3 separate regions of the Homo sapiens genome follow, and all the other regions are linked to region 1. Evidence: fine-mapped expression QTL. A gene starts in region 1. Each other region holds a variant in brackets. All regions are shown on one strand. Distances are from middle to middle. Region 1 holds the start of ATP5F1C (ATP synthase F1 subunit gamma). Region 2 overlaps TAF3 (TATA-box binding protein associated factor 3). Region 3 holds the start of TAF3 (TATA-box binding protein associated factor 3).

Region 1 (8,184 bases):
CGGGAGACTAAGAAACACAGTGGAGGGAGAATCAAATGGACCGTGGATTACCACTATCTACCATGATTCCACAGCGCTGTTATAACAGCTGACGAAGGCAGTGGAGGAGGGAGTCAGGAATGACACCCTTCCAAGAAACTATTGTTTGAGAGATTTTTAAGGAGTATATTAAGATACATAAAAACTTAAAAAGCAAGCAATATTGGCTAATTCTCAACGAAAATTATGAAGTGACTCTAATTCTGATATTAAGCGTGTAAAAGTCCATTACCTGCCACCAGCAAAAACTGACTCCTTCACACTTACCTAACCCACACCCATGACTGCATCATCTTTTTTTTTTTGTTTTTGAGATGGAGTCTCACTGTGTCGCCAGGCTGAAATGCAGTGGCACGATCTCAGCTCACTGCAACCTCCGCCTCCCGGGTTCAAGCAATTCTCCTGCCTCAGCCTCCCGAGTAGCTGGGACTACAGGTGCGTACCACCACGTCTGGGTAATTTTTGTATTTTTAGTACAGACAGGGTTTCACCATGTTGGCCAGTATGGTCTTGATCTCCTGACCTTGTGATCCGCCCGCCTCGGCCTCTCAAAATGCTGGGATTACAGACGTGAGCCACTGCGCCTAGCCCGACTGCATCTTCTTTTCCTCTTTTCGCAAGTCCAAGCAATCTTCTTACATTACATTTGATGTAGAAACTGTACTTAAAAACTCTTCATTTCTCTACTGATATACAGCATTTGGATCCCTATCAGCATTTCCCCCATTGTCCTACATGCTTTGCAAATACTCTAATCCTCACACTAACCCACTGAATTGTGCACTTTTATTGCATATATTTGACAGATGAGGAACTGGTGGGACAGACACTGAGTAACCTGCCCAAGGTCACAGAGCTGCTAAGTGGCAATCAGAATTCAATCCCTGCCGTCTGAATGCAGCCCTTCAGGGCTGGCTACAGAGTCTCTCTCTTCATACAGTACTACACTCTGCTGCCTCACATTTTTTACATTTATTAGTAAATATCTGCCCTCATGGTCTCAGATGACAATTTGTCTTTTCTCTCCTGAAATGCCATCTCCTTATCGGTATCTGTAGTTTATGACTACTGACACGTTATTAAAAAACAGTTCCATTTTAGAGACTACTGAACTCTAAGAAATAGAAATGTTTTTCCCAAATTTGAAGACAGTAAAATCCGGGATTCTTTCTCTCAAATTTTTAATTTCCATTTTCTTATATGCTGCTTTAAAAAAAAGGTTTAATTTTCAAAACGTTAGAGTATTTTGCCGATACCCTAACAACTATTAAAATAACCACTGTGAATTTAAGTAAGCCTAATGTTTTTATGTTAGCATGGTAGCCTCTCTGAAAACAAAAACTAAAATAACAAATTGTACTTTAAAAAACTTCCAGTAATCAAGACAGAAGCATGGAAATATGCCTCTTCATGGTTCGTTAAGACAAAGGTCTTTTCTTCCCCTTCCAAATTAATTCTGTGGAGTGGTTTTAATTTCTGAATTCAAAAGGCAATTATAATTCATGGAAAGAGAAATGGCAGAAGAGGAAGGAAAGACATTAAGCACCAGCAGTGAAGGAATACATGAAAAGAAGAAGACAGAATATGCTTTCATAGTGGAACACTGTTGATTGATGATTTATAAAACCAATATTCCAAAGGGATTAAGGTCAGGATTAGGACCTTTATATGCTGATTGTGGTTCCGATTTAAGCTCCTAACAGTAGTTGTCTTGAACTGAGAGCTCTTATTTAAAACAATCCTTCACTAAAAGAGCTTCAAATTATCTTACAGGTGCTTTAAAAAAAGATATTTCTAAAATTTTTTGTAAAATATTGTCTTTGTTTCAGAAACTATTTCCACTTTTTTAAAGATCAACTTAGAAACTAAGGTTGTAAAAATACTGACAGATAACATTAATGCGTGGCAAGAAGGTAAGGCCAGGAGAGCTGATGTTCGCAGAGCACCACTGCATGCCAGGCACTGTCCCAGGAAACTGACTGAGACCTTATCTATTTGCTCACCATCACATTTGGGCACTTTCCAAGTACCACCGGGTGGAGTGGAAGCACTCAGCTAATGTCTGCTGAGTGGTTAACAAGTGGGACAATCTATACAACTGAGAATTCAACTACAGTGACCTTTTAATTCCCATGAATGTTCTTTTTCCATATTAGAGAAAAAAAAATCTGACTTCCAAGGCCAAGCCACCAAAAATTTTATGTGGCTAATTCACATCAGATATCATTCTGAAAATCTCGTATATTACTATCAGTTATTTGCTTAATGAAAAACCTATTTATTTCAACTAATGCTTTATGGTCCCTTCATATAAATTAGGATACGAAAATCTAGTTTAGCACTGTAGCGCCTTAGAAATCCTCCACACTGTTAAGAGCAGGGAATTGCTACGACACAGCCTAGAATCCCCTTAGCAGCGTGTCTGGAATTCTTCCAGATTCCGTCAAGCTTCAAAACTGAACAGCACCACCCACAAACCAACTTTTACCTGCCCATTCCCGGGCCTTCTAATATGCACTTCCCCCAGCCCAGGTCCCCCTACCCGGAACTAATGTTTAAAATTCTCGAGGCTCGTGGCACCCTTTAGTTGCATGTCAGTTAACAAATGCCACTTAAAAGCCCACCGAACTCCTCCCCCAGGACCTGGGGGCAATTTCATGACCTTGCAGGGTTACGGTTTCAGCAAGTGGTTTCAAGGTAGTGCTAGGTGTCCTTCCCTTCCCCGCCCTCAGACAGATCTGTACGGTCCCTTCTGCACCAAAACCACCCTCAGAGGCATCTAGGATGTTCGCCTTTGCTGTTGCAGCACCCAGCAAAGCGTCTGCAACACGGGAGGTGCTCGACGGCCGCGCTCTCTGACTCGATCGAATCTTAAAGGGTCACTCTGTCCAGCACTACAGGGTTTCAAAGGGCGTCAAGGACAAAAAGCACGACTTAACCTTCCCCTGGGCTATTGCTCAGGCTCCCGTCACCTTGCAGGCCCTGAGACTGGGGGCCTGGCTTGCAGTGGAAGTGGAAGCTCAGGAAGTGCTGATTAGCTGAGGGAACTCAAGACCGCCCAGACGTCAATTTGGACTCAGGCCGCAGTCCCGAGGTCCCAGGTGGCCCTCCGACCTCAGGGAACCGGGCGGGACCTTGCTCCGCCGGAGCCCGGCCCTGCGCACACCTTGCCCGACCTCAGAGCCGCTTCCTGCAGCCCCCGCTACCCGGCGCCTCCGACGGGCCAGGGGCCCAGCTAGGCCCTGCGACCCCACATCTGCCCCCGCGCCCATCTCCTCCTCCCTGCCCCGTGCCCAAGCTCTTCCATCCCTTGCGGTCCTGCCGATCTTCCCGCAAGCTGCCATACCATTGCGGCTGCAAGGTCCAGGCCGACAGCCCAGCGACACCCGCGCGAGAGAACATGGTAGCCACAGCCCTGCTGAAGGTCGGTCAGGCAGGCCTCAGCGCGCATGCGCCGAAGCTCCCCAGCGCGCCCCTCCCACCTTGCTCTCTTCTTCAGTCTCGTTTCTTCGCGCTACGGCGAGGGGAGTCTCGCGACCGTTGCAACCCAGTCTTCCCAGGCCCCACCTCCTTCCGCCTCTCAGCTGGGATTTGTCCCGCCCACCGCCGCCAGCCCGGTTCCGTTTCCGGCTGGCTGAGTACTGGGGTCCAGAAAGTGATCGCTGCCGTGGTCGCCATGGGGAAGTCGGATTTTCTTACTCCCAAGGCTATCGCCAACAGGATCAAGTCCAAGGGGCTGCAGAAGCTACGCTGGTATTGCCAGATGTGCCAGAAGCAGTGCCGGGACGAGGTGAGTGGGCCCGGAGTGGCCCCGTCTTCCCAGGAGGGCCCCTGGCAATCCAGGATCAGGTCCTGGACGCGGGGCTGAGGGCGCGGGGCTGGGGCTCCCGGGGTCCGGGTCGTGAGGCTTCTGAGGTCTGCAGTGGGCGAGTCAACTACTCAGCGCACGAGAGCCGTCCCTCCCCGCAGCCCCCGGGCCCAGCGGGCAGCCTGTGTTCTGCGACCCCTCATTCCTCCCCAGTCCGATCCCCACCACCAAAGAAATGAAATCAGAAAAGGTTTTGCACCCCTCACAGGGGCGGGGATACTGCAATACTAGACGCCCGGGCAATGCCAGTAACAGTCATCAGCTCTTACTTGACTTGACTCTTAAGAGAAACAGGGTGGTTAGGATTCACTCCTCTTTTGGGATCAGGTGAAAAAGGAGAGCTAAGCTCTTCCACACTACTCATCTAGCAAGCATTTATTGAGCACCTACACTGTACCGGGCACAGAATAATATTGTGGTTAAAATTATGGATTTATCTGGTTTATGGATATATCAGACTGTCAAAATTTAAAGTCAAGCAGGGCCACTTACCAACCGTGTGGTCTTGGGCAAGTTATTTACTTATATTCCCCTTTACTTATCTGTAAAGAGGGAATAATAATTTCACCTACTTGTAGGATTGTCGCTGAGTTTTAAATGAGTGAAGTATATATAGAGTGGCTCAAGGAGTCTGGGCAGATCTCGAAAAGCCTTATATGGCTACACTATGGAATTTACACTTTTCCCCATTAAAGAGGTGGTTGATTGAATGCTGTGCAGGCTAGTGATGTGATCATATTTTTCTCCGGAGATTGGACTGGATTGGGTAAGGGTGGAAGAACACTGAGGCAATTGGAATAATCTAATCCAGTGTTTCTGCAAGTGAAGGAAGAGGTATTTTAGGTAGGACTCATACTAATATTGATACAGTTACTCTCTTTAGTTCTATTAAGGAATACCTGTATATGCATTATCTAATGTCTTAGTCTGCTTGGACTGCCATATAAAGTGCAGTAGACTGGGTGGTTTAAATGACAGAAATTTATTTCTCACAGTTCTGGAGGCTGGGAAGTTCAAGATCAAGGTGCTGGCATGGTCAGATTCTAGTGAGGGTCCTCTTCTTGGTTTGCGAAACTGCCTCTATCCTCACAAAGCAGATAGAGCAAGCTCTAATAGAAACTTCTCTTCCTCTTTTTTTTTTTGAGATACGGTCCCACCCTGTTCATCATGCAGGCTCTACCCTTGTGACCTCATCTAAATCCAGTCATCTCCAAAGGCCCACCTTTTAATTCCATTCCCTTGGGGGTTAGGGTTCAATATATGAACTTTGAGGGGACGCAGACATGCAGTCTGTAACACCCAGACTTAACACTTTAAGTAATTTTGCCGTATTTACTTTTTAAAAAATATTTTAAGGTAAATACCAATATCAGGATATTTCACCTTTAAATACTTAAATAGGCATCTCTAAAATTTCAGGATACTTTTCTATATAACCATAGTATATGTCATCAACATAACACAATTAATAGAAGTTCCTCTTTATCATCTAATACACATTCACACTTCCTCAGTTGTCCTCCAACTGCTCCTTGAAATCAAGATTCGATCAAAAGCAATAGACTGTTATAGGTTTGGTTATTAGGACCTCCGCTCCCCTCTCCAGTCTCCCTCATCATCAACATCCTGCAACGAGGTGTTATATTTGTTACCATGGATGAAACTACATTGACACATCAGTATCATCCAGAATCCATAGTTTACATTAGGGTTCACTCTTGGTGTTGTACATCCTATGGGTTTTGACAAATGCATAATGATACGTATTCACCATTATAAAATCTCACAAAATAGTTTAACTGCCCAAAAAGTCCTCTGTGCTCTGAGTTATTAGGACTTTTAGTTTTCTCCAAATTTAATTTTCTCTATATTCTGAATTTAGAATATAACCCATTTTCCCTCCACCCCTTTTTCTTTTTTTTTTTTTTCTAGACAGAGTCTCACCTGTCTCACAGGCTGGAGTGCAGTGATGCGATCTCAGCTCACTGCAACCTTTGCCTCCCGGGTTCAAGTGATTCTCATGCCTCAGCCTCCCAAGTAGCTGTCCCAGCTACTTTACAGGCTGGGATTACAGGTGCCTGGCACCACACCTGGCTAATGTTTGTATTTTTGGTAGAGGCGAAGTTTTGCCACGTTGGCCAGGCTGGTCTCAAACTCCCGACCTCAGGTAATTCACCTGCCTCGGCCTCCCAAGGTGCTGGGATTACAGGTGTGAACCACTGCGCCCAGCCGTCTTTTTCTTGACATTGACTTGTTGAAGAGAGGAGGCCAGGCTGTTGTCCTGTAGCATCCCATATATGTTGACTTGTTTCCTCTGGTTGTCTTTTGCCTTCTAACTCGTAGTTTCTGTCAACTGGAAATTATATCTAAAAGCTTTGATTGGGTTAGATTAAACATTTTGGGGAGAAAGAATACTTTGTAGGTGATCTTGATAGATTAATTTCAGGTTAAACATTTGCAGGGAGGAATATGATTTTTTTTTTTTTTTTTGAGACAAGGTCTCAATTGGTAGCCCAGGCTCGTGTACAGTGGCGCGATCATGGCTCACTGCAACCTTGACCTTCCCAGCTCAAGCAATCCTCCTCCTGCCTCAGCCTCCCAAGTAGCTGGGACCACAGGTGATTGCCACCATGCCTAATTAACTTTTTTATTTGTATAGAGATAGGGTCTCCCCATGTTGCCCAGGCTGGTCTCAAACTCCTGAACTCAAGCACTCCTCCTGCCTCGGCCTCCCAAAGTGCTAGGATTACAGGCTCAAGCCACCATGCCCAGCCTATAGTATTCTTTATAGGTGATCTTGTATATCTCATATAGCATCATATAAGGAAGCCAATAATGTTTGGTAGTACTTAAATTGAGTAAAGGTGACAGCTTGTAAATAATATTAGAAAGTATTATTTTCCCCCTTGTAAGAGCAAGTGAGTATTGGGGTAATACTTAGAAATCATACCTATATATCTAGTTTCCCATTAACCTTTTACCTGTGTGTTTTAGCATCCTTGCCTGAGTCAGTTATTTTATTAGGAGTTGCAAAGAGGTTATTTTTCTAATTTTTTTTTAACATTTATGATTGGCTGCCATGCTTTTGTACAAATGAGCTTTTGCTCATCAACTAGGGCTATTTGGTTATCCTTAAACTTATTTTTTTTTGTTTTTGAGACAGGGTCTTACTCTTGCCCAGACTGGAGTACAGTGGCTCGATCATAGCTCACAGCATCCTCCAACTCCTGGGCTTAAGCAATCCTCCCGCCTCAGCCTCTCAAGTAGCTGGGACTATAGGCACATACCACCCATGCCTGGCTAATTTTCAAAAAATATCTTGTGGAGATGGAGGTCTCATTGTGTTGCTCAGGTTGGTCTTGAACTCGGAGGCTCACACAATCCTCCTGCCTTGGCCTCCCAAAGTGCTGGGATTACAGGCATGAGCCACTGTGTCTGGCCATCCTTAAATGTTAAACTGAGATGCAATTTTTTTGGGAAAGGAGTAAAGGATTAATTCTTTTCTGTAATCTCCTGATACTGGAAGGCTGAAGAGAATGAAGGTCAGAGCCAGGGTATCCCCCCAATCTACTCCTGGGTTTCTAGGATTTAGTAACTGTATTGTTTGTTCATTTTATTTTATTTTTTAATATATGGAAAGTGATACTGTTTATTTATGAGGCTGATACCAAGTTTCTTTTAAAAATAAATTTAAATAATAACTATGATTCTTATAGGGCACAGATGAGGCAAAAATTGTGTAAGAGGTCCATGATCTAAAGATTAGGAAACTATTTGAAGCAAAATCGAGTGTGGAAATCTGGACGGTGTCAGTGAGATTGATCAGAGGGACTGAATATGGGTTATTAAGAAGCTGAATAGACTTCCTATTAAATTGGAGGTAGAAAGAGAAGAAGGAATCTAGGATGTTGTCTGGTTTCATGGCTTGGGTGCTTGTGCTTCAGATAGAGATAGGGAATACAAGAAAGGCACATTTTTTGTTTCTATTACTAGTGAAGAATGAGGGTCAAATATTAAGGAGAGGTATACTAAGTCAAAACTTGTATGTTTTTTTCCTGTCATTTTAAGAAGGTACAGATTTAATATGTTTAACAAGGTTAATATAATATGCAGCAATGTATTTTGGATAATGAGCTGAAGTAGAGGAAAGTGAGCGAAAGTAGTTTCTGTGGTGAAAATTCACTAATGACCCATTTTACTCCTTTGAGCACTTGTCTGACACTTTGTATAAAGTATGTGCTCAATGAGAATTGATTAACTTAAGTCTAAAAAATGGA
Region 2 (8,184 bases), 48 kb before region 1:
ACGAGAACTCCATGCCAGCATGAGCTGACCCAGGTACATAGTTATTTTTGGGAAACATCAGCAGTTTAATGATTCTGGAAGGTAAAGCACGAAGCAACGAGGGGCAAGTAACTAACATGTCAAGTGGGCAGGAGTCCGATCACACAGGGCCCTGTAGGTTTATGCTAAGACACGTGTACTGAACACCACAGGCATATCCCAACATCAGCCCTTGGTACGATTTCAGCTGCAATTATCTGGCTCAGATGCTGCTGGATTTAAAAACAAAACAAAACAAACAAACCAAAAAAAAAAAAAAACAAGCAATGCCTCCAGACAACTTCCCTAGATACACAGAAGGAACGTTCCCCAGACCCTGGAACTCCAGCCTAACAAGGTAATGAACAGGAAGGTATCTGAGAGGGCCAAGAGAGAGGCAGCCAGATCCTTAACTAGGAGGCTGGGTGTGGAGGAGGCTTATAGCGTCGGATGTTAGGGGGCCAGAAGGTATTCAAGAAGCCTGCCTGCCCATTAAGAAAACCAGCTTGGCCAGGCACAGTGGCTCACGCCCATAATCCCAACACTTTGAGAGGCCTAGGTGGGTGGATCACCTGAGGTCAGGAGTTTGAGACCAGCCTGGCCAACATGGTGAAATCCCACCTCTACAAAAATTACAAAAATTAGCCAGGCGTGGTGGTGCACACCTGTAATTTCAGCTACTTGGAAGGCTAAGGCAGGAGAATCGCTCAAACCCGGGAGGCAGAGGTTGCAGTGAGTCGAGATCAGGCCACTGCACTCTGGCCTGGGCAACAGAGTGAGACTCTGTCTCAAAAACAAACAAACAAACAAACAACAACAACAAAAAAAAACAAAACTGGCTTGGTAAAGGTACTCTTCTGCTTAGGACAGTCCTGGCCAAGCAGGGACTTCCAAACAACAGCAGAAAGGCCAAAATGGGGAGAGAGGAATATCTCACTCATCTCTCTATATTCAACACCAGTTCCTTGTGTAGGATCCGACTCATGGCAGGTACCCATACACACAGCACTGAACGGAGTCAACTAAACCCTAATCCAGCTTTGCTCCCAATTCCCAATGCAACACGAGGCAGGTTAATTCAATTATGATTTTTAAACTTCCATTTCTCCTTCCATAAATGGGAATGATAGCAGCATCTGCCTTTAGGACCTGTTTCAAGATTAAATGAGATAATGTTTATGAATATATTATGTGATATCAAGGATAAATTATTTGATGGCTGCTTTTACATACACAAACATTATTTTAGCAACTGAAAGCCATGCAAATATCTTCATTAACATTCCTCTATTAAATCAGTAAGTAATCTACGTTGTAAGAATAAACATCTTTTCTCTTGAATAACTACAGCTATTCCCTTTTTATTTTTTTGAGACAGGGTCCCACTCTGTCACCCAGGCTGGAGTGCAGTGGCTCACTGCAGCCTCAGCCTCAACCTCCCAGACTCAAGTGATCCCCCTACCTCAGCCTCTGAGTACTTACACCACCTCAGCCTCTCAGGCTTACATCACCACTCTTGGCTAATTGTTTTATTTTTTATTTTTTCTGAGACAGAGTCTTGCTCTTTTGCCCAGGCTGGAGTACACTGGTGCAATCTCAGATCACTGCAACCTCTGCCTCCCAGGTTCAAGCAAATCTTGTGCCTCAGCCACCCGAGTAGATGAGATTACAGGCACGCACCACCACGCCCAGCTAATTTTTGTATTTTTAGTAGAGACGAGGTTTCGCCATGCTGGCCAAGCTGGTCTTGAACTCCTGGCCTCAAGTGATCAGCCCGCCTCAACCTCTCAAAGTGCTGAAATTACAGGCATGAGCCACCACACCCAGCTGACTTTTTTTTTTTTTTTTGCCCAGACTGGAGCACAGTGGTGCAATCTCGGCTCACTGCAACCTCCACCTCCCTGGTTCAAGCAATTCTCCTGCCTCAGCCTCCCGAGTAGCTGGGACTACAGGCCCATGCCACCATGTCCAGCTAAATTTTGTATTTTTAGTAGAGACAGGATTTCACCCTGTTGGCCAGGCTGGTCTTGAACTCCTGACTTCAAGCAATTTGCCCACCTTGGCCTCCCAAAGTGCTGGGATCACAGGTGTGAGCCACCACGCCTGGCCAGATTTTTAAATTTTTTATAGAAACAAGGTCTCACTATGTTGTCCAGGCTGGTCTCAAATTCCTGGGCTCAAACGATCCTCCTGCCTTGGCCTCCCAAGTGCTGGGATTATAGGCATGAGCCATCACACTCAACCAAAGCTCTTTTCATTTTGATGCAAAAAAGAAAACTCCTCTCCATAGGTATTTTTGGTAACTGTAAGCAGTTGGAGAGCCAACAAAGTGTTTTATAATGTGGGATGTGTTAATTTTTTGTCTAATAGTTTCGTTTAGAGGATAAGGACAGTTCAGACAAGAGATAAAGGTTTAAACAAAGGAAGTGATGCAATAATATTTTGGAAATTTTTTAAGAAAGAAAATTAGCAGAATTAGAGATAGGGAATGAAGGAGAATGAGAGAAGAGGTCAATGCTAATTCTCATGTTTCTAGCTTAGGTGACTGAGTAGAGATGGTGCCACCAACTGAGATGGATAACACAGGTGTATTCGTGGTAAGAAAATGTGGAAATGGGCCGGGTGCAGTGGCTCACGCCTGTAATCCCAGCACTTTGGGAGGCCAAGGTGGGCAGATCACCCAAGGTCGGGAGTTCAAGACCAGTTTGACCAACATGGAGAAACCCCGTCTCTACTGAAAATACAAAATTAGCTGGGCTTGGTAGCTCATGCCTCTAATCCCAGGTACTCGGGAGGCTGAGACAGGAGAATCACTTGAACCAGGGAGCCGGAGGTTGTGCCATTGTACTCCAGCCTGGGCAACAAGAGCGAAACTCCGTCTCAAAAAAAAAAAAAAGAAAGAAAAAAGAAAACGTGGAAATGGCCAACTGCAACTGGTTGCAGGGTCTGAGAGGTGGATGTAGAGGGACAGTTTGGGGAGGCATCAGCATACAGATGGGGGTTCAAACTATGAGAGTAGGAAAGTCAACTCTGAAACTAAGTAACGTGAGAAACATAGTAGGTGAAGGATAAAATTTTAGAAGCACCAATGTTTTAGCAGTAGGAGAGCCAGGGAAGACGTGCCCAAGAAAGGCCCCAAGATGGAGCTCATCATATAAGGAGAGTTAAGGGAGTATGATGGCGCTGAAGAAAAGCAGCTTCAGGAATTGCCCAACAGTGATGAAAGCAGCAAAAAGCTTCAATAAGGGGAATCCTGGGAAGAAAGTGGTAGCTGGGGCAAGGTAGTTTGTGCATCTTCCCAACATAACCAGGTGACAGAGTACACCCATCAGTGCCAAAATACATGCAGGTGACAACATGCCACCAAGCGCCATGAGACCCGAGTATGAGGCATCTATGCAAGGGAAACAGTGAGAAGCAACGGGAAGACTGACCTGAAACAGGAAAACCCCAAAAGGGCCACCAGGCCTCTGCTGGAAAGCCCGGCAGGCCAACCCGAGAAGAGCGGCTGAGGCTGGGAAGGATGGGACCACTTCCAGTACAGGGAGTACAAGGGGCTGAGTGAGATCCAATGGGGCTAGAAGTTGAGCCCAGGAGCTCTCAGACTTGACCCTGGCTGCTCTCTGCCAGGACAGAGCCTCGCTGAGAGGACACAGCTGGCAGTGGAATCACAGCTGGCCAGAAAAAGGAAAACTGACATGAAGGGAAGAGAAGATCCAGGTAAAAGTGGTGGAGGAAAACAAACAAAAAATCTCAGTGAGCAAGTTCCCATATTTGGAACATTCCGCAAAAACGATAGAAGAGGGAGCACTGCAAAGTCAGAGGAGCTACCCTGAATCTCCTTCTAAAGCAAGCTTGTCAACCCACAGCCCATGGGCCATATGCGGCCCAGGACGGCTTTGAATGCAGCCCAACACAAAGTTGTAAACTTTCTTAAAACATTATGACTTTTTTGTGTGTGACTTTTTTTTCTAGCTCAGCAGCTATCGATGGTGTTAGTGTATTTTATGTGTGGCCAAAGACAATCCTTCTTCTTCCAGTGTGACCCAGGGAAGCCAAAAGATTGGACACCTGTGTTCTAAAGGCTCAGAAAACTAACTCACATATAGTTTCTATAAAGAAGAGAAGACTAAATAGCAAAACATCCCTCCAGACAATGAAAGTACGAGAGAAACACACACTCGAAAAAACTGATGAACCTATAATG[T/C]TCTATCTTGAAATGATCTAAAAGACATGAAAGTATATAAATCAAAATCAGAAAAAACTCAGAAATTAGGTAGCAGAACTCAAGACAGTAGCTATATGATCTGACAAGATACACACGGTAAAATGAAAGAAAATTGGTTTCATAGGACAGAATGAGCAAAAAAAATTTTTTTTACCTGTTTCAGTAATCATGAATGATAGTATCAGTTGCAATATTGTACGTGTAATCTGGGATAAAGCAAATGAATAATTATGGAATATTCTAATTTTATCATCTTCTTTATTCCTGAGAACCAGAATTCTCAGTATGGATGACAGTATTTATGGATGTAACATAAAAAATAAAAACCTTGTAGTCCTAAATATGAATTGGAAAATCTGCATGAACTCAGGAGGAACCCTATCCACCTATCTATCTATTCACACACATCTACATGTATATAAATATTTATTTACTTATTGCCTAGAAACAATGAACAACCGAGTTATATATAATAAGTATCCCTTAGCACCGAGACTGTGTACTTGAAATGCTATTTCCCAGCGTGGAGACAACTGGATATCCATATGCAGAAGAATGAAATTGGATCCTTATCTCATACCACTTAGAAAAATCAACTCAAAATGGAATAAAGACCTAAATGTAAGACTTGAAACTACAAAACTGCTAAAAGAAAACATAGGGGAAAAACTGTAAGACACTGGTCTGGGCAATTATTTTTTATATTTGGCCCCAAAAGCGCAGGGTGACAAAAGCAAAACTGAACAAATGGGATTCCATCAAAATAAAAAGCTTTGGCACAATAAAGGAAACAGCAGAGTGAAGGCACAACCTGTGGGTGAGGAGGAAAACACGTGCACCCACACATCTGACAAGGGGCTCACGCCCAAAACATGTAAGCAACTCAACAACAACAAGAGCCACAACCACCACCAAAAAAAAAGGCAAAATATATAAGGAACCCAAACAACTCTATAGAAAGAACAGTCTGGCTGTTGTCCTGTGCCGGAGGACAGCAGGCAGCCATGGTGCCCAGCGGGAATGGCAAGATCTTGAAGCCCCACTTCCACACGCACTGTGCAGCGGCTGAAGGGGTACCGCTCCAAACTCATCCTCTTCCCCAGGAAGCCCTCGGTCCCCAGGAAGGGAGACAGTTCTGCTGAAGAACTGCAATTGGCCACCCAGCTGACAGGACCAGTCATGCCCATCCAGAATGTCTATGAGAAGGAGAAAGCTCAAGTCACCACTGAGGAGAAGAATTTCAGAGCCTTTGCTAGTTGCTGCATGGCCCGTGCCAATGCCTGGCTCCTCCACATATGGACAAAAAGAGACATGGAAGCTACAGAACAGGATGTTGAAAAGAAAAACTGAAGCCCTCTTGGGGACTTGTAATAAATCAGCAGTATTGCTGGGTCCCCAAAAAAGGAAAAAAGAAAACCCTACAGAAAGAAATAATCCAATAAAAAATGAATAGACATTCCTCAAAATAAGACATACAAACTGCCAACAAATACATGAAAAAATGTTCAACATTACTAATCATTACAGAAATAAAACCACAGTGAGATATTACCTCACACCTGTTAGAATGGCTGCTATAAAAAAGATGAAAGGTAACAAGTGTTAGCAGGGATGTGGAGAAAAGGGGGAATCCTTGTACACTGTTGGTGGGAATTTAGATTAGTAGTCATGGAAAACTATGTGGAGTTTCCTCCAAAAACTCAAAATAGAATTACCATATAATCCAGCAACCCCACTCCTGAGTATTTACCCAAAAGATTTGAAAAGATTATGTGGAAGAGATTCTGCTCTCCCAAGTTCACTGCAGCACTGTTCCCAATAGCCAAGTTACAGAAATAACCTAAGTGTCCATTAACAGATGAGTGGATAAAGAAAATGTAATATATATACACCACAGAATACTATTCAGCCTTTAATAGCACCACAGGGTGACTAAAGTCAACAATAATTTATTGAACATTTTATCTCGAACTCCTGGCCTCAAATCATCCTCCTGCCTCAGACTCCCAAAGTGACAAGATTACAAGTGTGAGCTACTGCACCCTGTACATTTAAAAATAACTAAAAGAGTATAACTGGAATATCTGTAGCACAAAGAAATGATAAATGCTGGGCCAGGTGCAGTGGCTCATGCCTGTAATCCCAGCACTTTGGGAGGCTGAGGTGGGCAGATCACTTGAGGCCAGGGGTTTCAGACCAGCCTGGCCAACATGGTGAAATCGCATCTCTACTAAAAACACAAAAATTAGCCGGGTGTGGTGGTGGGCACCTGTAATCCCAACTACTGGGGAGGGTGGGGCACAAGAATCACTTAAACTTGAACCTAGGAGATGGAGCTTGCAGTGAGCTGAGATCACACCACTGCACTCCAGCCTGGGTGACAGTGCGAGACTGTCTCAAAAATAAATAAATAAATAAGAAAGAAATGATAAATGCTTCAGGTGGTAAATATCCAATTTAGTCTGATGTAATTACTACACATTGTGGTGTGCTTTTATTAAAATTCTTATGTACTCCATAAATATTTATACTTACTGTGTACCCATAAAAATTAAAAAGTATTATTATTCAGCCTTTAAAAAAAGAAGGAAATTTTGTCATTTGTGACAACATAGATGGAATTCAAACAATTCTGCTAAGTGAAGTAAGCCAGGCACAGAAGGAGACATACCACATGTTCTCACTTATATGTGGACGAAAAGAACCAAATTCCAAGAAGCAGAGAGTAGAACAGTGGTTACAGAGGCTGGGGCAGGGGATGTGGGGATGTGGGGATACAGAGATGATAGGCAAAGGGTACAAAGCCTCAATCTGACAGGAGGAGTACTTTTTTTGATACATTGCACAGCATGGTGAAAAAGAAAAATAATAATGTATTACACATTTGAAAATCATTAAGAGAGTAAGTTTTAAATGTTCTCTCCACAAAAAACGATAGGCATTTGAGGTGACAGGTATGTTAACTAGCTTGACTTAATTATTCCACATTGTATTTATAAAACATAACATCGCTTTGCACCCCCCAGATATATACAAATGTAACCTGAAATTTTATAATTAAAAAAAATTAAAATTAAAAAAAGAAAAGAAATACTACTTTCCAAGAAACCAGGGTTTCCTGGACAGATAATTTATACCAAGCATAGAACATGACTATACATGCTGAGTCTAGAACATTTTGATATACCAGAAGGTGAGGACGTCACCAAAGCCAATTCGGGTCATGTGTCAAAAGGACTCAGAAGCAAGAGTGAAGAAGCTGCCACTGGCCAAAGATGCAACAATTAAAGCTACAATATGGGTAAAAAACTGTAATGAGGCCGGGCACGGTAGCTCACTCCTGTAATCCCAGCACTTTGGGAGGCCGAGGCAGGAGGATCACAAGATCAGGAGATCAAGACCAGCCTGGCCAACATGGTGAAACCTCGCCTCTACTAAAAATACAAAAATTAGCCGGGCGTGGTGGCACATGCCTGTAATCCCAGCTACTGGAGAGGCTGAGGCAGGAGAATCCCTTGAACCTGGGAGGCAGAGGTTGCAGTGAGCCAAGATTGAGCCACTGCACTCCAGCCTCGGCGATGGAGTGAGACTCCATCTCAAAAAAAAAAAGTAATGAATGAAATCCGTCAAGTATGTTTAAATCTGTGAGTTCACAATGATAGAGTATTAAATGAAACTAGTCACCTGCTAAGGATAACAAGGAACCAATTTATTCTCATGAAAACTGGGAATATACCATATGAAAAAAATCAAGCGTTAACCCTGCTTTCCCTATATAAACTATGCCATTAAGTTACTAAATAGTGGATGAGGAAAAGGATTTTCTTATAAAGTTATTTCAACTAAAGAATGAAATAAAAACAAAGTGATAGTATTATCATTACTTTGTAACCCCTAATGAATTAATGGATCTAGGCACTGAGCATCAGCACTGCTAA
Region 3 (8,184 bases), 32 kb before region 1:
GCTCAAGCGATCTTCCCCTCTCAGTCTCCTGAGTAGCTGGGACTATAAGCACATGCCACCATGCCTGGGTAATTTTTTTTTTTTTAATTTTGTAGAGATGAGTTCTTGCTATGTTGCTCAGGCTGGTTTTGAACTCCTGGCCTCAATCAATCCTCCTGCCTCTGCCTCCCAAAGTGGTGGGATAACAGGCATGAGCCAATGTGCCTGGCCTTTTTTTTTTTTTTAATCATCAAATAAGTAGTGTGCTGTGCTGACAAAGTCAATGTTGGTTACATTTCCTCTGTTGTTCCCTGATGCATCTGCAGAATCTTAAACAGTGGCTGGCACATAGCTGGCACTCAATAAATACCTATTGAATGAATTATACCATTAAATCAATTTTTAAAATCTAAGAATATTTACAAAGAAGGCTTAGATCATAAAAGTTTGGTTTTTGTTCGTTTTTTGAGACAGGGTCTCACTCTGCTGCCCAGGCTGGAGTGCAGAAGGGCAATCATGGCTCACTGCAACCTTACCTTCCCAGGCTCAAGCCATCCTCCTACCTTCACCTTCTGAGTAGCTGGGACTACCAGTGCACCACCAACATGCCTAGCCATAAAGATAATTTATCTATAAATTTTCAAATGTAATTAGAAAACACCACATAAAACAGAGATAAAAAGTTAGATATAGAGATTTTTTTCTTTACAAAAGCAAGTTTTTCTTATGCCTATTCTTAGCAGAGCTTAAGGTCTCTACATCTTTAAAAATGTCTATGAAAATTCCATTTTCTGATTTTCAATAGCCTAAAGGATTTAACTGAAATCCTGACTTTTTAACTGAAATCCTGAAATTTGATCACTTCAAACTCAGTATGTCTGAAATTAAATCACACTGTAAAATGAAAAAGAATCCAAATATTGCTAGAATTGGACGCATGTGTAGTAATGCATACAGAAACCTCTGGAAGGATATTCAGCCAATGGTTAACAGTTCGAGGGGTGGAAGCTGCAGTAGAGGCGAGGGCTGTGGTGGAAGCAGGAGACTGACTTCTAACTCCACATACTTCTGCAGTCTTTGATTTTTTTTTTCTATAAGTATGGGTTACTTCTGTGATGCATTAAAAAAAGAAAATAAATAAAACGAATACTCTTCTTCTTACTGAATGTAAACAGGCATTTCATCTCTTCTATTCCTATTAAAGCTATTATTACTCTCTCAGTCTAAAAAATATAATAATCTTAAATTCCTCCATATGCTTTGCAGCCTCAAACCAAAACCTGGTAGTTTCTAACCCTGTCCCCGTCCCCTTCGGCCACCTTTTTTTTTTTTTTTTAACCATGATTTCAGATTTTTTTCCTTTCTCTCTATTCTTACTGTCACTATCTCAGTATAGTCTCAAGTTCTGCCCACTTCAATCTCTTATGCACATCACTGTCAGTACAATTTTCTTAAAATACCACTTTAATCATACTATTCCCCTACTTAGGAGTATGCAATGTTTTCTACTACATGTTTTAATTCTTTTGTCTAGCTTTCAAGTCCTTCCATAACCTGATCTCACTCTGTTGAACATTTTACTCAGACACCCTTGGAATGAACTAGCTGCATAGGGAGCTGAACACCTTACTGGTACTTTTATTATGCTTAATCTCACCTGGACAGCTTAGTTTATGTGATTCTCTAAGCTGGAATACTCTATACCTTTATACAACCATACTTCACAGCTCAACTCAAATCTTATCTTTTCTGTGAAGTAATCCTACCCCAGAATCTATAGCCTACAGCCATCTCTCCTCTTATCCCTTTTACATTTACTCCCTGTACCATGCAAAAAAATATTACAGTACTAGTGTTGAAGAGTCAGTCTGAAAGATTTAGCACCTGCTTTCAGTACATGCCAACATATTTAACATATAATGTGACACCGACAGAGACATCTGCCCTTGAATGCTTGGAGACATTGTTACCCTAAGGCAATTCTTAAGTTCATTATTTGTTCATTATTTGAATTAATGGTAACTTCTAATACTTGCTTTAACTTGAGAACATTTCTTTTAGAAGAAACAAACACCATCAGTTTGTTGTTTCCTGACATTCTGGAACTCTTGAACACACCTTATGGTCAGGGATTGTATCTTAGTAATTTTATGTCTCCAATGCCTAGTACAGGGGTTGGTTCGTAAGTGATGCTCAGTAAGTGTTTGTTAAAACAACAGAAAGGATTTAAAGGGGTGGAATACAAGATTCCATAGTGGTAACCTGGAGCTACAGAATTTGATTTTAGAATAAGGCTGGTATAGAAAAAAGAATCTAAAAATATCTAATAAGTATACCAAAATTAGCATTAAAAAAAAGTCACCAAATTACGTGGGAATAATGAACCTGACAATCTCATTCTCACTGAAACCAAGAAACTGGCTACGGAAACTTGGTAATTAGGAACAAGGTTTACACTGAAGAGCTGCAGTGACCCCTGGATGACTTTGGAATACCTAGTCACATAGAGTGGCAGCTCCCTTCTGTTTTGTATAAATGGCAGTAAAGGTAACTATGTATTCAGGAGACATTTTGAATATCTAAAGATACATGGTAGCAAACATAATCTGGACTATGCCTAGCCTAGCCTAGCCTAGCCTATCACTAACGGTATACTCAAGGACCACTGCAGCGGAGGCCAGAGGAAAAAGAAACAAAAGCCAGAAGAGTAGTCAGCTGGTGATGTACTTTCAAGATAAAAATGCACGCATATTACTTTGTGGTTCCACATTCAGATGTATCAGTGAGCTGGGCATGGTGGCTCATGCCTGTAATCCCAGCACTTTGAAATGCTGAGGCAGGAGGATCACTTGAGCCCAGGAGTTTGACACAAGCCTGAGCAATATAACCAGACCACATCTCTACAAAAAATAAAAAGATTAGCCAGGCATGGTGGCGTATCCCTGTAGTCCCAGCTACTTGGAAGGCTGAGGCGGGAGGATCACTTGAGCCCTGAAGTTCGAGGCTATAGAGAGCTAAGATCGCACCACTGCACTCCACGCTCGGCGACAGAGTGAGACCCTGTCTCAAAAGAAGAAGAGTAATAGAAGTATCAGTGAAATCAAGCATTCAAAACATATACATTTTTGGAACTCAATATGTAAAGTCAATAAGTGGCTTTTAGGGTAGTGGTTTATCAGTTCATTCATTTATTCAACAAATATTTCTCAGGTGCCTATTATATAATGGCCCTACAGGTTACAGAATACAAATATAATCAATTTTTCTCCTGGAGAGGGGAAAGAGACATACACAGGTGATTACAAAACAAGATGACAAATAATATAAAAGAAATATGCACAGAATTATGAAAGCAGATAACATGAGTTCCCTAGAGCAAGTGATAAGTGCATCTGAAAATAAAAGTAATACTATTGGTGGGCCACGGGCAAAGGACACTCTAGGTAAGAAACAGCACGCATGTAGGAATGGACAGCTTAAAACATTTTGGAAAAGGCAGGTAGCTCAGCGTGGTCGCAGATTAGCATGGCAGGCTGGCAAAAG[G/A]TAAGCAAAATGCTAGCTCACAAAGGGAACTGTGTACTGCTAAGAGTTTCGATTTTTAGCCTGTAACCAACGAAGTATAGTTAAAATGTTTTTAAGAATAATGACAGGATCAGATCTGTGCTATGGACAGATTATTTTGGCAGCCCTGTGGAAGCGGGAACGAAACTTGGGGCCTAAGAAATACAGCGTGTGTCTGTGAGTCTCAATTTTCCAGTATAGGAACCACTTTAACAAAACAAAATATCCTATGAAACACTTCATTCAGTTCTCCAGCTCACCACCTTAAACATCATGACTTGAAACTAAAATGAGTGGTAGTTTCCTCTCCTCAACAAACACACATACAATGCTTCACATCAACAAGATAATGTGGAGCTTCTATTAAAATATTCCATTCCTTCCATTAAATTATTAAATACCACTAGCTATAGATATTACCAGACATTCATTTAAAACTCATAAGTACTGTAGCCCAGATTACCTGGAGAATCTTGTCAACTGCCCACGGTCCCTCTATCCTACTTCGATAGCCACTGACATCTCACTGGTAACCGAGACGTAAGTGAAAGTACATCTAATCAGCGAAACTGACAAAGTCAGCCTTGGAAAAACAGTAAATGGAGATGTCGTTCACGAAACGAACAGATACAGAAAGACGAGGCAGTGTCCCTAACGGAGCAGAGCTGTCAACGAGTCTATGTAGTTAGGAGCCCAGGAATGGCCAGTCTTGTAAGAAACGGCCGGTAGACGGAGCGCCTGTGACAACTAGTTGTAGTAGTTTGCGGGCAAGGGAGAAAAAGGACCGAGGTAAAAGAGGGTGTAGGGCACGCTGGGGGTGGATCTACCCGCAGCAAACAGGAGACAATGAGAGAGATCCAGACACAATTCAGAGCGGAGGAGCGGTAGGAGGGTGTGGAGCTGGGAGCGAAGACCCGACTCCCGGGCTGGTGGCGGGAAGTTAGCGGATAAGGAAGAGGCACCCGAAGGATGACTAGAGTTTGGAGCGGCAGTGGAAGCCCAGGGACGTGGGAGGCCGAGGAAACAGCAGATCTCGAGGCGGGGTGCGGGATGCACACCCCGGGGACGCGGAGGGACAGGGAGAGCGAAGGTGTCACCCTTGACTTGCCGGGGCAGCCCTCCCGCACCCAGCCCGGTACTCACAGAGCTCAGAGTACCGATGGCAGCCCCGGCCCAGCTGCTGCAGATAGCGCTGCAGCACGTCCGTGAGGAGGTGGCAGGCGCTGAGCTGCACCGAGTCCCAGCCCAGCGCCTGGCAGATCTGCGCCACCGAGACCCTCAACAACGACCTGGAGTAACTCTCGCACATCCCGCTGCGTGGACGCCACCGCAGCCCTTGCTGCCACTGCTCTCCAGCCCCGCCGCCAGACCTTAGCAGGGTCCCCGATTCATCCTCTAGGGCTTCCGCGGCGGGGAAAGGGTCCCCCGGACCCCCGGCGACCACCTCAAAGCCCCAGCAGCACGGAGCGCGCCAGCCTGAGAGCCGCCATTTTGGACTCGCTCCGCCTCCCGCTGGACGGCCGCCGGGGCGAGGCAGCATAAGCCGAATGCCGAGCGCGGCGATGAGAAAGCTCCGCCCCTTGGGAGCGGAACGATTCCTCGGGATCGCCTCTGAGGCCTGGAAGCCGGCCGGAAGCGGGCGTGGGGCGCGCAGGTGGAGGAGGCGCCCAGGGCGGCAGGTGCTGGGGCGCTCACCTGGGGGACAGCGGTGACGAAAACGCCAGTGTTTTAGAGGCAAACGAGGGATCTGGGATACGACATTGACAGGTTAGAGAGTTAGCACTAATAACGTTAGTCATATTAGAGAGTTATGTGCTAGAGAGAAGTTTGGGGCGTGGGAACTTACGGAGCTCGCCAAACGCAGACCTGCGCTGGTGTTGCCTCAGCTAAAAATCTGTGTATTGAGCTGCTTGCCACTGCAAAGATTAAATAAAGTCCAAGCTGTTCCGCATGCCCTTCAAAGCCCTTCGCAATAGGGCAGGAACTAGGAGGACTCTGTGCCAAATTAATGGGGGCCTCAAAAAACTCAGTCATCAAGATCGATAATATTTTAACAGTTTTTTTAAAAAAATCCAAATCCATGCCATAAACTCCTGACTCACTCATGTCATTCTAATCCCAGCCCTGGTTCCAATAAAACTTTTTTTTTTTTTTTTTTTTTAAAAAAAACAGGTAAGCTGCCTGTGGGCTATAGTGTGCGATTTGAGCATCGCGGCTGTGACCTATCGGGGGATGGGGACCTCGGCTGCCTACAGAGGCCAAACCGAGCCTTAAACCGGTGTCGCAGGCCGAGTGTCCTGGGAACGGTTGCCTACCCCAGAGCCTTCTCCCAGCTCCATCCAAGTATTGCCAGAAATCGGATTTAGGGATAAATATCTTGATTTTTAAATACAGAATTGGGAACACATCTCAAAAGCCAAACTGATCCCACGGTTAGTCTAGATTCAGCCTGCAGGTCGCCCGATTGTAGTGGCTGAACTATGCGGTTTCTTAAATATGCCCTTCTGTACTTATCACAGTGTATTTAGTTTATGTGCTCCTCCAATAAATTGCGAGTTTATGAGTGGCTCTATATTCCTCCGACAGGGACTATTCCAGAACTTTGAACATGATATTCACATTTTTCAAAGTCTGGGAAACTCAATAATAGAACTGAAATTATGGTTCTTCAGCTAAATGACGATCTGCAGAGAAGCAAGGTACTAAAGGGCAAGGTGCCTGCATTTACTCCCTGGACACTCTGTCCCCAAGTTATCAGGAACATTGTGTTGCTAAATCTATGAGACATTTTTCAGTCCTAGCCGTACTTGATTATTTTGTAGCTATTTGATAATGTTGAACGCTTCTGTAACATTGAAACTCTCTTGCGCCTTGGATTTCACAAATCTGTCCCGCTACCGCCGCCACCCTGGGTGTTTGTTCCTCTTCATTTGCCTTTCTGTGTATAGGGGAGGGGATTTTATTTCGGAAAATTTCAAACCTACAGAAAAGTTGAAACAAAATCATAGACTCACGTGTACACTTCAACTAGATTCACCAATTGTTAACATTTTGCCAATTTACTATATATTTTGTATTTATATATGCACGCAGGTATTTTTTTTCCAGCAGTTTGAAAATAAGCTGCAAACTTCATGACACTTAACCCCACCACACCTCGACATGTATCACCCCAAAACAAGAACATTCCCCCACATAACTATACACAAGACCATATGTCACAGGCTTGGTTCCCCAGGAAGTCAACTCTGAAATAGAGATGAGCCTGCAGAAAGTTCATTGAGGGATCCTCCTGGGACTTGGGGGAAGGAGTGAAAGCCAGGGTGCAGTGAATTCCTTGGCAAGAAAGCCTCAGCCAAGCCAATGCCATAGTGTGCAGAAGCTGGAGTGGCCCTTCAGAGCTTCCCTGAATCCAAACAAGAAGACTGGACCTTTATATTCCCATAGGAACAGGTCACTGCATGAGGGCTACCTGGGAAAGGGTGTGTGCTCTCAGGCAAAGGAACACTGCAGCTGAGTCCATTCAATTCCAAGGACAGCTGAAGTCCTTCAGTCCTGAGGGGGCTCTGAGCAGTGGATTAGAGCATTCATCACAGTTCATCTATTTTACCCTCAGAGACACTTCTTGGTTTGAGGAACAGCTCCTCCAGGATTCTGGAGGGGGCCCTTTCCCTGGGGAAAACATTAAAGAGGAAGGTCAGGAGACAAATTAGAGCCCCGACTGCTGCAGCCAGGCCTCAGCTGATACTCAGTATTCTCCTCCTCAGGCCTACATTTCTCTCACTTCTGGTCTCAGTAGCTTATTTGGTGGCATGATGCAGACCCTCATGTGCAGGTCTGAGCCCCTGGTTTCCAGGCCCTTTTCAGACTGTGGCTGCTGAACTCGTCCTTGTACCATCAGAACTGGGGAAGAGAATACCCAAAATTGGGCAAGAGGCACCCAAACAGACCATGTGGAAACCAAACACTCCACCTTGCCTCCCACTCTGTAATAGGAGCCCATCCCCCTCCTAAAGATGACTCCTCTCTTAGCTGCAGTCTCAGTGGAAGTGCCCAGGCAGCAACTGTAGCTAATGTTTCAGTGGGACTCCTGCTAGGTCCTCTGGTGAAAGCATTCCCCCTTTTGGAAATGGGATCTGTAAACCTGGAGAACCCAGAGTGGCAGGACAGGAAGAACAATTTCCCAGGTGGGTCCCTGGGAGTGATGTAAGTGGAGAAACCCCAGTCTCCACCCTGTGTCATCTACTTATTGGGAACCCAGCATCACAGAAGTCATTGACTTGGTGGGGCACAGTGGCTCATGCCTTTAATCTCAATACTTTGAGAGGCCAAGGCAGGTAGATGGCTTGAGGCCAGGAGTTCAAGACAAGCCCTAGCAGCATAGTGAAACCCCCATCTCTACAAAAAAAAAAAAAAAAAAAAAAAAAAAAAATATATATATATATATATATATATATATATATATATAAAGAAATTAGCCCCAGCTACTCAGGAGGCAGAGGCCAGAAGATAACTTGAGCCCAGGAGTTTGAGGCTACGGCGAGCTATGATCGAGTCACTGCACTCCAGCCTGGGCAACAGTGAGACCCTGTCTCTACAAAAAGAAAAAAGGTTGTTGGCTTAAAGAGTGCACAGCAGCCTAGG

Evidence for each region. PIP is the estimated chance that this variant, and not a neighbour inherited with it, causes the effect.
Region 2: its variant is fine-mapped to the expression of ATP5F1C in atrial appendage (GTEx, PIP above 0.99).
Region 3: its variant is fine-mapped to the expression of ATP5F1C in blood mononuclear cells (TOPMed, PIP above 0.99). The same link has a PIP of 0.9 or more in whole blood.

Annotation. Positions count from the first base shown.
Region 1 is chr10:7,783,465-7,791,648 of GRCh38, reverse strand. It overlaps ATP5F1C (ATP synthase F1 subunit gamma), which reads right to left and starts at 3,472. Exons shown (of 10, transcript NM_001001973.3): 1 at 3,386-3,472. The coding sequence starts at 3,441. It overlaps KIN (Kin17 DNA and RNA binding protein), which reads left to right and starts at 3,656. Exons shown (of 13, transcript NM_012311.4): 1 at 3,656-3,829. The coding sequence starts at 3,716. RefSeq lists enhancers at 2,388-2,931, 3,384-3,703.
Region 2 is chr10:7,831,024-7,839,207 of GRCh38, reverse strand. The region is part of intron 2 of TAF3 (TATA-box binding protein associated factor 3); the gene reads right to left. Among named protein-coding and RNA genes, the nearest start is that of TAF3, 17 kb to the right of the region's middle. The variant T/C (reference allele first, on the strand shown) is at 4,226.
Region 3 is chr10:7,815,375-7,823,558 of GRCh38, reverse strand. It overlaps TAF3 (TATA-box binding protein associated factor 3), which reads right to left and starts at 5,054. Exons shown (of 7, transcript NM_031923.4): 1 at 4,684-5,054. The coding sequence starts at 4,849. It overlaps LOC105376392 (a long non-coding RNA gene), which reads left to right and starts at 5,196. Exons shown (of 3, transcript XR_001747356.1): 1 at 5,196-5,307. RefSeq lists enhancers at 4,342-4,859, 4,988-5,047, 4,860-5,378. The variant G/A (reference allele first, on the strand shown) is at 3,523.